Regions from separate parts of the Homo sapiens genome. Here region 2 is linked to region 1. Evidence: fine-mapped expression QTL. A gene starts in region 1. The other region holds a variant in brackets. All regions are shown on one strand. Distances are from middle to middle.

Region 1 (2,796 bases):
TCCAGCCCCTCCCACACCCTCTGAGATAAGGGCTCCCCAACATACCCTCTGCTCACCTGCCAAGCCTCTCCCAAGTCTGCCCCTCTGTCCCGACCCCACCCATTTTCACCTGATATGGACACTGCCCTGAGAGTGAACTAGCACACAGCAGACGGGCAGGTGCCCAGGGAAAACCACAAGACATATGCCCAGCCCCGCCTTGGGCACATACTCTGGGGCTCCAAGAAACATTCAGTGCTTTCTTTAGAGGCTTCCCTGGGAGTGCTCAGAGGTGAAGCAAGGGAGTGACAGAAGAGGCTCCAAGAAGAGACAGAGGGGTTCAGAGACTGGACAAGCGAGACCTCCTCAATCCAGCTGCCTCTGCCTTCAGGACCCCTCCACCCTGCCACCGTAGCTCAGAGACTTCTCTGCCATGATCTTGCAGAAAACTCCCCAGCCTCCCACCAATTAATCTCCATATTATCTAGTGCTTGGAGAAACTGAGGCCTGAGATAGCCCCCATTTTCCCATGTCTCCTCCCACCAAACATGCCCCTAGGATGCCCTTTTTGGACCCTCAGTACCCCCTAAAGCCTCACCATCCCCTGTCTACCCTCACAGTCCTTGGGGCTCTGAGAAGTGCCACCCACCCAGAGAGGGCAGGACATTGGGCTAAAGGAGATACTTCATGAGAGAAGAGGGGGCCCAGGACATGCCCAGGTCTGCACAGGTCCTGCAGCAGTGCCCACAGGCACCCTTGGCACTGGCCCTGGCCATCCTGGCTCCACCGGGAGATCAATAATGCATGAGGCTCTGCATGTGTGAGACGGGGGAGGGGACTGGAGGGGCGAGGCTGGTTTGAGGTGGGGGAAGCAGCCCAGATCTTCTAATGGAGCTAGCAAGCACCTGAGGAACTGAGGCCCAGAGGGGACAGGGATGTGGCAGGAACGGGTGCCCAGGAGGTTGGGGCAGAGGGACCCTTGCTGCAAGAGGCTGACCTGGGAGGAAACTCCTGCATTCAGCCATTGAAAGTTCTCAAACTCTTCCGGTGTTCAGGTATCTCTGGGCCCTTCTCCCGGCCCTGTGGGGATCCTGGCCCCTCACTGCTTGTGGGTAGAGGGGGAGGCTCTATCGGTAGGCAGGTGAAGGGTCTAGGTGAGCCAGGTGGGTGCCCCCTCTCCACCTCTATTCAGGAGCAGACCCACCAGCTTCAGGTGGGAGGAAGCTCTTCTCAGGAATGTCAGCTGCTGCCACGCAGCCCCCTTACCCCAGGGTCCATGGACGCCAGTACTCCTTGGCCCTTGCGCCGCTCTGCCTCTGAGTCACCGTCTCCGAGTCACCGGCTCCCTCCTCACCGCGCTGAGCAGTGGCAGCAGCTGCTGCAGGAACCAGGAAGGAAGGAGATGTCAGAGCCTCCCCTCTAGCCGGATCTCCCCACCTCCCTCTCCCCTGTCCCCTCCTCCCGCCAAGCTCCGGGCAGCCGCTCAGCTCTGCCCCCCTGCTCCCCGGAGGACTCAGGGCTGAGCAGACTGCCCTAGCATCGATGTGGCTTGGGAGTGGGGGCACAGTCCCTGCTGGGCATGGTTCCAGATAGATCAGAGGACTGGGGAACTGTTGGCTGTACGCCAGTGGTGATAAAGGATTTATTCAGACTAGCATGGCAGTGACCCTGTTAGTACCCAAGGCCAATTCCTAATTAACCCCCGCCCCCCGCCTCTCATTTTACATCTGAAAATAGACTGCAAAATTTGGAGCCAGCAAAAGTATCAGGTTGATGGTGGAGGGACAGATGCCCCCTCTGGGACCATAAGAGAGTGCCAAGAGCACAGTCAGCAGGGGCAGTCAAGCCAGGAAAGGGACAGCCAGCAGTCCCCACACTGAGGCCCTTCACTGGGGTGATGCCCCACTAGGTCAGGCCCCATGGAGATCTGAAAGTGCTTGTGTGTATGAAGACACCCCACAGCCTGCAGTCTCTGATCAGGAGCAGGCCTGGGGCAGTCACAGCTGCCGTTAAAAGGGCTGCAATGCTGGTCCCCTCCCTTCCCTTTACCCTTCTGCTGGAGTACTGTGCCCAGCTGCTCAATTCTAATGAAAAATCGGCTCTTAACAAAGATCTAAAATTCATTCAAATGAATGTGGCATAGACCTACAGTTTCAAGCGCAGCTAAGTTTTCTGGAAAGAAGTAGGTGGGGCCTCAGGTGAAGGATGTGATTCAAGTTTCTTCTCTGACCCCAAAAGTGACATGGGCCACTTATCCCTTCCACTTCATCCTCACCGAGCTTGGTTTACGTTTCAGGGTCTCACATATCTCTCGGGAACACCCACTGTCTTGCCTTTATTCAGAGCCTCAGTGCTGCTCCAGCCACCCCAGGAGGAGGGTGTTGTTAGCACCTGGCAGGGTTCTGGGAGGGACAGGAGCACTGGGCAGCACTGACCAGACAAGCTCTGGCATCCAGGAGCCTCAAGGGCCTTTTAAGCCACTTCCCAGTGATTGAACATCCCTGGGCATACAGCACAGGATGAGGCACTGGGGGAAGCTGGTCCTGGCCCAGGCCACAAAAGAGCTGCTGCAGGTCATCCCTGCCAGACAGTGCCTGTCCAAGACTAAGGAAGCGGTGGCATTGCTTCAAGTCCGAGAAGGAATGTTGAACAGCCACCTTCCCCGGGTCACCCCTGCATCCACCCAGAATGTGCTCCAGTCAAGGATGATGGTGGACTCTGAGTTAAGCATCCCGTCTCCTTTATTAGGAATTTCTGGTTCATGAAGACTTGCATGAGGCCTCCTACCCTAGAGCTCTCAGAATTCCCCATTAATAG
Region 2 (2,944 bases), 40 kb after region 1:
ATCTCCCCCAGCATCTTATACAGCAACTAGTACTGAGTGTGCAATAAATATATGTTGCACTGGATTGAATTTACACCCTTTGCAGAGGACAAGGGGCTGCCAGGTCAGAGGTTGGTGAGTTCTCTATAAATCCCCTTGTCGGCTGGGTGCAATGGCCCATGCCTGTAACCCCAGCACTTTGGGAGGCGGAGGCGGGAGGATTACTTGAGGCCAGGAGTTGCAAACCAGCCTGGGCAACATAGTAAGACTCCGACTCTACAAAAAAAAAAAAAAAGTTAAAATAAATAAATAAATAAATAAATAAATAAATCCCTTTTGTCACATCACTGAGAGTTGGCCTCATGGCCTTCAAGACACTGCATCAAAAACATGCCCTGACCCTTCCTCTTTCACCCTGACACTGTGCCCAGTGCCCTGTCAGGAATCCAAGGTCAGGGGTGGCAGACAAGGCTCCATAAGAGGCCCAGTATCCTGTGTCCTGGTCAGCTGGGCACGGCCACCAACCCGCAGCCAGGGTCATCCAGAGAACCTCCAGCAGGATCCCACGAGAGGGGAATTAGAGAGGAGGCTGGGTATCAGGACCTGGCAGGCGGAATCAGGCGGGTAGGGGGAAGGAGGGCAGTGCCCTGGAAAGGGGGCCGGTCTCATTGTTGTGGTCTGTCTGGGAGATTCCTCCCCTTTTTAATTTGCTTCCTGATTGAGGGGTTGGCTCTGACTGCCCAGCTCCCCCGTCATTATCTGCTGCCGGTGGCTCAGGTGCTGGCGAGCCTGGTGTGGCCCGTAGGTTATTACCTGGAGCTCTGGGGGTGGCAGAGGCTGCCCCTCTGGCCGGGGTGGGGGCCTGTCTGGAATCTGCCCTGATCCTACCACCCACAGGGCAGCCATCTTGATGCCCAGCATAGTGGACACATTCACTTGGTTCCAAGAGTCAGCTGATCCCAGGCGGACTTCAATGTCTAGAGGAAGCTTCATCTTTCAAGTGCCTAGAGTATGGATTCAAGAACCTGAAGGCCAGGCGCAGTGGCTTATGCCTGTAATCCCAGCACTTTGGGAAGCCGAGGTGGGTGGATCACTTGAGGTCAGGAGTTCGAGACCAGCCTGGCCAACATGGTGAAAACCCATCTCTACCAAAAATACAAAAATTAGCCAGGCATGGCGGTGCGCGCCTGTAGTCCCAGCTACTTGGGAAGCTGAGGCACAAGAATCGCTTGAACCCAGGAGGCAGAGGTTGCAGTGAGCCAAGATCATGCCACTGCACTCCAGCCTGGGTCTCACTCAGACAGAGTGAGACTCCGTCTGGAAAAAAAAACAAAACCTGAGGCAGCCAGCCACGGTGGCTCACACCTATAATCCTGGCACTTTAGGAGGCCAAAGTGGGCAGACTGCTTAAGCCCAGGGATTCAAGACCAGCTTGGGCAACATAGCCAGACCCCATTTCTACAAAAAGTACAAAAATTAGTTGGGCATGGTGAGGGTGCCTGTAGTCCCAGCTACTTGGGAGGCTGAGGTAGGAGGATCACCTGAGCCCAGGAGGTCAAGGCTGCAGTGAGCTATGATCACACCACTGCATTCCAGCCTGGGAGACAGAATGAGACCCTGTCTCAGAAAAAAAAAAAAAAAGCCTGGCATGGTGGTGGCTCATGCCTGTAATCCCAGCTGTTTGAGAGGCCAAGATGAGTGGATCACCGGAGGTCAGGAGTTCGAGACCAGCCTGGCCAACGTGGTGAAACTCCATCTCTATGAAATACAAAAATTAGCCAGGTCTGGTGGCGGGTGCCTATAATCCCAGCAACTTGGGAGGCTGAGGCAGAAGAATTGCTTGAACCTGGGAGGCAGAGGTTGCAATGAACTGAGATCGTGCCACTGCCCTCCAGGCTGGGTGACAGAGCAAGACTAAGTCTCAAAAAAAAAAAAAAAAAAATTGGGTGTGGTGGCACAC[G/A]CCTGTAGTCCAAGCTACTTGGGAGGCTGAGGCACGAGAATCGTTTGAACCTGGGAAGTGAAGGTTGCAGTGAACTGAGATCGCAACACTGCACTCCAGCCTGGGCCACAGAGCGAGACTTTGTCTCAAAAAAAAAAAAAAAAAAAAAAGGTAAAGCACCCAGAGTTAGATCCATTTCTCAAAGGCTGTGAAAGGAGTTAAGTCATTCATTAAGAAGTGATTCCAAGCCATGTGCGGATGAGAAAGAGACAGCAGTGAAGCTAGGGGATTCTCCTGCTGAATCCTTCCTATTCTGTGGTGTTCAGAAAACCAAGATTCGTAGAGGGGAAAAAGTGGCATTGATCTATGAACCTGGGACAACTAGAACCCAGCATGTGGGACTTCCTGTTGTGTAGGTGCAGAGGAGACTCAGCCTCCTGTAGTGCCTGGAGCATTGGACTTCAGACCTCTGCTCAGTGCCTGTGGGCGCAGCCTAGAACCCTGGCAGAGAGGGCACCCTTGCCTCTTCCATCTCTGAGTCCCCAAAGTTCTGGCCCTTTGCATTATCCTTGATTGAGCCTGTGAGCTTCAAGGACAGGAGATAATATAAAGATAAACAGGAAGTGCCAAATTAGAGACACGAAGTTTGTTGTTTTAGAGGGCGCCCAGCGCCAAGCAGCGGTGCCAGGTTGGCAGTCCTGGAGCCTGGTGTCTGCCTGCTCTCTGCACAGCCAGCTGCCCCTTGGACCACAGCAGGAGGGCCCTCTGGGCAGGAAAGGAGGATGGGATGGAGCATGGCAGGGAATGGGTTAAGCAAGTCATTCTTTTTTACCCACCAGCTGAACATTTGCAGTGTCACCTCTGATTCATTCTGGGCATTTAGTCACTCATTCCACAGATATTTTTAAGCTCCTTCCCTGTTCCAGGCATGTGCTTGGTACAGCCTCTTCCCCCAAAGCTAACATCCTCACTAGAATGTAAGCTTCATGGAGGCAGGGGGTTTCGTTCATTGCACTACTCCCAGTG

Which allele goes with the higher level. Alleles are on the strand shown, and positions count from the first base shown. SD is a standard deviation of normalised expression in the study named.
For the expression in fibroblasts of the gene that starts at base 1,374 in region 1, allele G in region 2 goes with a lower level than allele A (small effect, 0.14 SD a copy in GTEx).

What was found. PIP is the estimated chance that this variant, and not a neighbour inherited with it, causes the effect. A credible set is the group of variants that fine-mapping cannot tell apart.
Region 2: its variant is the best candidate, but not a certain one, in a credible set for the expression of OSBPL7 in fibroblasts (GTEx, PIP 0.71).

Annotation. Positions count from the first base shown.
Region 1 is chr17:47,820,421-47,823,216 of GRCh38, forward strand. It overlaps OSBPL7 (oxysterol binding protein like 7), which reads right to left and starts at 1,374. Exons shown (of 23, transcript NM_145798.3): 1 at 1,246-1,374. RefSeq lists a silencer at 1,337-1,552 and an enhancer at 1,663-1,832.
Region 2 is chr17:47,860,442-47,863,385 of GRCh38, forward strand. It overlaps a transcript of SP6 not described here. Among named protein-coding and RNA genes, the nearest start is that of SP6, 11 kb to the left of the region's middle. The variant G/A (reference allele first, on the strand shown) is at 1,940.